Linked DNA regions of Homo sapiens. The protein of the gene in region 2 purifies or fractionates together with the protein of the main gene of each other region. This does not show direct contact. Each region holds a gene or a part of one and is shown on either strand. Other genes may lie near its edges.

Evidence for each region.
Region 1: the proteins of ACBD6 (region 2) and URM1 purify together in Homo sapiens (affinity purification with mass spectrometry; one large-scale study listed by BioGRID and IntAct). This does not show direct contact.

The regions. Positions count from the first base shown.
Region 1 is NC_000009.12:128,374,374-128,377,873, forward strand, and holds part of URM1 (ubiquitin-related modifier 1), read left to right. Parts: intron 1-3,500. UniProt on the Homo sapiens protein: Acts as a sulfur carrier required for 2-thiolation of mcm(5)S(2)U at tRNA wobble positions of cytosolic tRNA(Lys), tRNA(Glu) and tRNA(Gln). Serves as sulfur donor in tRNA 2-thiolation reaction by being thiocarboxylated (-COSH) at its C-terminus by MOCS3.
Region 2 is NC_000001.11:180,499,778-180,503,712, forward strand, and holds the start of ACBD6 (acyl-CoA-binding domain-containing protein 6), read right to left. Parts: upstream 2,801-3,935; 5' UTR 2,490-2,800; coding exon 2,268-2,489; intron 1-2,267. UniProt on the Homo sapiens protein: Binds long-chain acyl-coenzyme A molecules with a strong preference for unsaturated C18:1-CoA, lower affinity for unsaturated C20:4-CoA, and very weak affinity for saturated C16:0-CoA. Does not bind fatty acids. Plays a role in protein N-myristoylation.

The sequences.
Region 1 (3,500 bases), on a different chromosome or scaffold from region 2:
AGTGCCTTCAGTTCCCATCCCTCTTCTCTGACCCCCAACTCCTGAGCCCCTTGCCTGTCACCCTCCCCCACCCCAGCTGCTGCATGTGCCAACCCCCCACCCAGGAGAAAACGAGGCTCTTGGAAGGGAATAAATGGAGGCTCTGTGCAGGCTTGCAGCTGAAATGGCCCTGTGCGCGGCCACAGATGGGCCTCCTCTCCCCCTCCACATTTCTGCATCAACAAAGCGTGACCTTGTTTGGATGACAGTCGCCCCATGTTTTCCCCATGACAATGCTTGCCTTGCCTTTGCCTCCCAGCGGGCTGTCTCAGGACATCTCTGTTCCCTGAAATTGGGAAAGGGTGGTGGGGTGGAAGACATCTCATTCTTCAAAAGTCTGGTGAGGCCTTTTCAGTTAAGATCCACAAGAAGTCTGAGATGGGAATTGGGAGACCCAGAGGGAGAAGCAGCATGGGGCGCTGAAAGAGCCCTGGCGCTCATCTCAGAAGCCTCAGCTTCTGGACTTGGCTCCAATCATCTCTGCAGTCCCCGCCTTCCCTTGGCCAGGTGCTGGGACACAGAAATGAACCAAACTCTGCCCTCAAGAGGCTTTCTGACCTTTGGGAAGTCCTGTTTTTTTCTGACCAGTCTGCTGGTGCTAAGCAGGAATCAGTTAGACTGAAATTATAGTTCAGCCCCTGCCTCTCTAACCTTGGACAAGTTGGTTGCTTAACCTCTCTAGGCTTGAGTCTGCTTTTCTATCAAAGTGAGCAAATAATATCTACCTCCTTCCTTCTTCCCTGGGACTCCCTGAGGATGAAATGAGATGAGGAACATCTTATAAATGGTGAGGCGATGTGAACAGTTGTTCTTAGTTGATGCCAGGCCTCATGGACTCTCTCAGCCTCCAGCACTGTGATGTACCCACCAGGTCAGCAGCAGGTGGCATGGGCAGGAGCATTCAAACCATCATCTGGCCAGAGGAAACCCCTAGATGCACAGGGTCTCCAGAGTGCCTCACAGTGGCTCCCCAACATTTTTCCAGATGGAAAGACTGAAGCTTAAGATTGAGTCAAGGCCAGGCATGGTGGCCCACACCTATAATCCCAGCACTTTGGGAGGCTGAGGCAGAAGGATTGCTTGAGCCCAGGAGTTCAAGACCAGCCTGGGCAATAGAGTGAGACCTCACTATGTTATAAAATATTTTTAAATTATTATTAGTTTTGAGATAGGGTCTCACTGTGTCGCCCAGGCTGCAGTACAGTGGCATGACCTTGGCTAACTGCAGCCTCAACCTCCCAGGTTCAGGTGATCCTCCCACCTCAGCCTCCCAAGTAGCTGGGACTACAGGCGCACACCACCATGCCCACCTAATTTTTGTAGTTTTTGTAGACACAAGGTGTTGCCATGTTGCCCAGGCTGCTCTTGAACTCCTGGACTTAAGCAATCCTCCCTCGCCTCTCAGCCTCCCAAAGTGCTAGAGTTACAGGTGTGAGCCACTGTGTCTGGCCCCCAAAGTATTTTAATAACAAAGAAAAAAGAAGATTGAGTCACACATCTAAGGTCTCAACATAGGGAGAGGTGGAGCCTGGGCTTCACATCGGGGCCGGCAGCTCCAAAGGCTGTGTTCTGCACCTGTGTGGTAAGCTGCCTCTCTAGAAGGCAGAGGAGTAAAAACAAGAGTCGGCAAATTTGGGTACTTGATTTTTTTTTTTTCTTTTTAAATAATTAGAGACAGAGCCAGGCATGATGACTCACAACTCTAATCCCAGCACTTTGGGAGGATTGCTTGAGCCCAGGAGGTCAAGACCAGCCTGGACGACATAGGGAGACCCTGTCTCTACAAAAAATAAAAATAAAATTAGGCAGGTGTGGTGACACGTGCCTGTGGTCCCAGCTACCTGGGGGCTGATGTGGGAGGTTTGCTTGAACCCAGGAGGTTAAGGTTGTATCAAGCTGAGATCACGCTACTGCACTCCAGCCTGGGTGACAGAGTGAGACCTTGTCTCAAAAAATAAATAAATAGGCCAGGCACGGTGGCTCACGCCTGTAATCCCAACACTTCGGGAGGCTGAGGCAGGTGGATCACGAGGTCAGGAGTTCAAGACCAGCCTGGCCACAATGGTGAAACCCTGTCTCTATTAAAAAAAAATACAAAAATTAGCCAGGTGTGGTAGCACGTGCCTGTAATCTCAGCTACTCTGGAAGCTGAGGCAGAGGATTGCCTAAACCCAGGAGGCGAAGGTTGCAGTGAGCCAAGATCGCACTACTGCACTCCAGCCTGGGCGACAGAGCGAGACTCTGTCTCAATAAATAAATTTTTTTAAAAAGTAAAATAAAATAATAAAAATAGGCCAGGCACAGTGACTCATGCTTCTGATTTCAGCACTTTGGGAGGCCAAGGCAGGGAGATTACTTGAGCTCAAGAGTTCGAGACCAGTCTGAGCAACATGGCGAAATCCCATCTCTACAAAAAGTACAAAATTAGCTGAGTGTGATGCCATGCACCTGTAGTCCCAGCTGCTTGGGGGTCTGATGTGGGAGGATTGCTTAAGCCTAGGAGGTCAAGCCTGCAGTGAGCTGTGATTGTGCCACTGAACTCCATGCTGGGTGACAAAGCAAGACCTTGTCTCAAAAATAAATAGATAATAATTTCCCGGGTGCCTAATGATAATAATAATTACATAGAGACAGGGTCTTGCTATGTCACCAAGGCTCTATTTCACTGAGGCTCATCTCAAACTCCTGGCCTCAAGCAGTCATCTCGCCTTGGCCTCCCACAGTGCTAGGATTCCAGGTGTGAGCCACCACACCTAGCCGGTACTTGATTATTAGTAAAAATTATATCCTACCTTGCCACATTAGAAGTCATATTTAGGAATTGGTCACTGGGTCTGGGCAGAGTGGCTTGTGCCTGTAATCCCAGTGCTTTGGGAGGCTGAAGTGGGAGGATTGCTTTAGGCCAGGAGTTTGAGATCAGCCTGGGTAACATAACAAGACTCCATCTCTACAAAAAATTTAAAGATTAACCTGATATGGGCCAGGCGCGGTGGCTCATGACTGTAATTCCAGCACTTTGAGAGGCCAAGGTGGGCGGATCACCTGAGGTCAAGAGTTTGAGACTAGCCTGGCCAACATGGTGAAACCCTCTGTCTAAAAATACAAAACTTAGCCAGATGTGGTGGCTCATGTCTGTAGTCCCAGCTACTCGGGAGGCTGAGGCACGAGAATCACTTGAACCTGGGAGGCGGAGGTTGCTGTGAGCTGAGATCACACCACTGCACTGCAGCCTGGGCAACAGAGTGAGACTAAACAGAGTAAAATAAAATTAAATATAAACATAAATATTAATATAAAAAGTAGCCTGATATGGTGGCATGCACCTGTAGTCCTAGCTACTTGGGAGGTTGAACAGGAAGGTCTCTTGAACCCAGGAGTTCAAGGTTACAGCGAGCTATGATTGCACTGCTGCATTCCAGCATAGGCGACAGAGTAAGAACCTGTCTCTAAGAAAGAAAGGG
Region 2 (3,935 bases):
CAACTTTTCCAAGAAAGCTAATTCCAAGGCCAATTTGGAGGTAATTTTCATTCGACACTATAATTTATACCATTTGTTCCTACAGCTTTCTCTCTCAGGTCACATTAACTGATATTCATAATAATGACCATCAACCTTCAAAACAAGGTTCATTTTTACTCAGTACATCCAGTTTAAGAACACAGTGGGGCTGGGCATGCGGGATCATGTCTGTAATAACAGTACTTCAGGAGGCGTAAGCAGGAGGATCGCTTGAAGCCAGAAGCTTCAAGGCTGCAGTGAGCTATGAGTGTGTAACTGCCCTCCAGCCTGAGCAACGAAACAAGATCCTGTCTCTAAAAAAACTTTTTTAGTTAAAAAAAAAAAAAAAAGAACACAGCAGGACCTCTCCCCCAACTTATTTTTCCTTTAACAAATACAGGGGAAAATACGTAACTATGTCAAGAGGCAAAAAGAAAAAAAGTTTACACATTTTTAATAAAACAAAATAGGCTATTATCCAGAATTTCCTTTCCTCTAGTGTTTCAAAGAGCTGTAATTTTCCTGAACTGTTATTTAACTCTTGTCAGCAATTTTTCAGGTATGTTCAAACCTAGACTCCTCAAGTACTTTAAGTCTCTTAAAGCAAATGTTGGCGGGGCGTGGTGGCTCACACCTGTAATCCCAGCACTTTGGGAGGCCAAGGCAGGCAGATCACCTAAGGTCAGGAGTTCAAGACCAGCCTGGCGAACATGATGAAACCCCGTCTCTTCTAAAAATACAAGAAATTAGTTGGGCATGGCGGCAGGCACCTGTAATCCCAGCTACTCGGGAGGCTGGGACAGGACAATCGCTTGAACCGGGGAGGTAGAGGTTGCAGTGAGCTAAGATCCAGCCACTGCACTCCAGCCTGGGCAACAGGAGCAAAACTCCATCTCAAAAAAAAAAAAAAAAAAGTGTCAGCCAGGTGCAGTGGCTCATGCCTGTAATCCCAGCACTTTGGGCAGGTGGATCGTCTGAGCTCAGGAGTTCAAGACCAGCCTGGGAAATGTGGTGAAACCCAGACCCTCTGTAAAAAAAAAAAAAAAAAAAAAAAGTGAGTGTCATGATGTTTTTGCTTCTCTGCAAAGTGTCATGATGTTTTTGCTTCTCTGCATTCTCTGTAGGCATTATACCCAAGTGTCTTGCACATAAAAGCTGCTGAACAAATATATGTTGCTTATGATAAAGCAATTATTTTCCTTCTGGTACCAACCAATGTCACCCTGAATTATAAATTAAACGTGTCTATACACCTCCCTATTTCCAGGTAAAGTTCACAGCCTTAGACTGAGTCAGGAGCTACAATCCAGTTCTGACTGATGTATTTGTATGACCCTAGGAAAGGTGCCTACTCTCTATGGCCTTCAGTTTCCTTTACTGTAAAAGAAGGGCATTATTTCCTCTGGTGTTCATAGCTCTAAAATTTTTAGATTGTATCAAACAGAAAGGAAGACATACTCAACGAAAACATAAATCAAAGATATTTAGGATTTTATAAAAATCACAATAAAAGTTGTAATACTGCATTTTGCATTGCATCACATTATTATTATTATTATTATTTGAGGTGGAGTTTCTTCGCTCTTGTTGCCCAGGCTGGAGTGCAATGGCGCACAATCTTCGCTCACCGCAACCTCCGCCTCCTCAGCCTCCCGAGTAGCTGGGATTACAGGCATGCGCCACCACGCTCGGCTAACTTAGTAGAGACGGGGTTTCTCCATGTTGGTCAGGCTGGTCTCCAACTCCCGACCTCAGGTGATCCTCCCGCCTCGGCCTCCCAAAGTGCTGGGATTACAGCCGTGAGCAACCACGCCCAGCCCTGCATCACATTATTACAATCCTATTATCTTTTTGGATCTCTATATAGTTTTATTAACTTTACCGTATTTACTTCCATGTGGCCCTCTGGGAAAGAGTAAATGAATGATATATCTTATTTTATCCTCATTTTGTAAAGGTTCTTGGGCTGGTAAAATGCAAGATCACTGAATAAGTCAGAGAAAAAAACACAAAAACAATGTCCAGTGTCCAGCTAAATAAACATCACTCCTAAGAAAGCAAACATCTTTTCCACGTTCAGGATGATGCTCATCCCCAGCAGATGGTCAAAAAAAAAAAAACAAAACAAAATACACATACACAAGCTTCATTACACCTAGCTATTAACCATACATGCTTGCTATCAGTTGTTGAGGAAGAAGGCTCCGTGTCTTTCTCCCCCATCCACCCTCTCCCTGCTACTTTACCTGTTTGTACCTGGCATACAGGTACAAGAGCTGCTCCCTGCTGGCCACCTGAATCAGGCCTTGCAGGTGCGCGGCAGCCTTCTCAAACAGCTCGGCCAGGCAACTGGTCTCCTCGATCTCAGGGCTATGGGGGAACTCCACCTCCCCGGAGTCGTCCCCTGAGCTCAGCTCTCCACCGCTGTCGCCGGTGATGGCCCCCGCGGGCAGGAATGATGAAGCCATGTCTCCTTGCTCGCTCCGTCCCTCTGTGTCCGGTCTGTCCTCCTTGGATTGGGTGTAAGGCCGGCTTGGAGGCCTGGCCCACCAGTCTGGGTCGCGAGCCTGAGCTCCAGTCGGACCCAAGCTCAGTCGCGGCGCGCTCCCTCACGTGACCCTGCTCCCTGCCCACTTCTACTCCCTGGGCGTGCAGAGCAGGCTCCTCGACCCTCTGCCGCTCTGCCCAGTCGACCCGGTCTCCTCCGGCTTCCCTCCGGCCAACAGCGCGCTCAGGCTCGCCTCAGGCCCCTCCAACGGAACAGGAGTCGAGGGGCAGTGAGGCCGGGATGCGTGCGAGCGCGGGGCGCGGCTGGCGCTGGGCCGTGGGGGCGGGGCGGCGTGCGTGCCAGCGGCGTGCGATTCTGTGAGGCCTGCTCTGCGCCGGCGGGGAAGCGCGGGCGACGCTACGCTGGACGTCCTTCCCTGCCGGAGGAGAGAAAGTGCCGTCAGCTGTAGGGGCGTCTTTTAATCGTTTCGCTGAAATTAGCAGTCCCGAGCTCCGGAGCCCGCCACCGGGATGGGCCCCCGGGGGTGGGGGAAGGAGGCCGTTTGTGTGGTAGTGTAGCGGTGAGAGCGGAGTCGCGGGAAACGCGAGGCTGAGGACTAAGGTTCCGCCTGCCCCAGATTGTGCGCCCCAAGCGCCTCCAAACAGCCCTGCGCGCGGATCTGTTGCGTGCGCGTTGGGCTCTGTGTTGAATAATGAAAAACTGCGAGATGGGGCTGTCCCGTCTTACTGTGTGACTGATGAGTGGAATCACTGCTCTGCGTGTTTCGCTCTCCACACCTTCGGAGCCCGCACCTCTCCGGGCCCTGAATAATAGGGTTTGGGGAGTTCGGGGCGCGCCTTAGCCCAGTTCTCATCCCGAGCTCTGTCTTTGACACTGTGCTTTGTAGACACTGTACAGTGAAACCAGAAGTACGGCACAGTTCGGCCCTAGAGGAATGCACAAAACTATTTTTTTAACTGTAACATTATGAGTGGTTATGTCCTAAATGTTAAACACAACGACGCACTATATATTCATTTAGTATTCAAAACAATGTAATAAGCACTATAAGAAGGGTACAAAGAAAGTGTTGTAAACAGTGGTTATTGACTGGGGTTAGGCTTGCGACGGGTGGACGGACGGCTGGACAGGATGAGGAAGCAATGAGAGAACACAGGAAGGTGAGAAAGCTTGCATCAGGATTCAACAGACATTCCTTAAGTCTCCAGAAAGTTCCACTGTTAGTCCCTGCTGTCAAGGTGCTCGCAATCCAGTCAAAGGGATGTTTAATGACCAAATTCTTGCAATTAAAAAGTGATTAAGAATAATGTATTGAGGACTTGATCATTACAACATAAGGTAGGTACTCTTATTTTACTACACATAGGAAATCAGCACAGAGTGGTTAAGTAACTTGTCAAAGGCT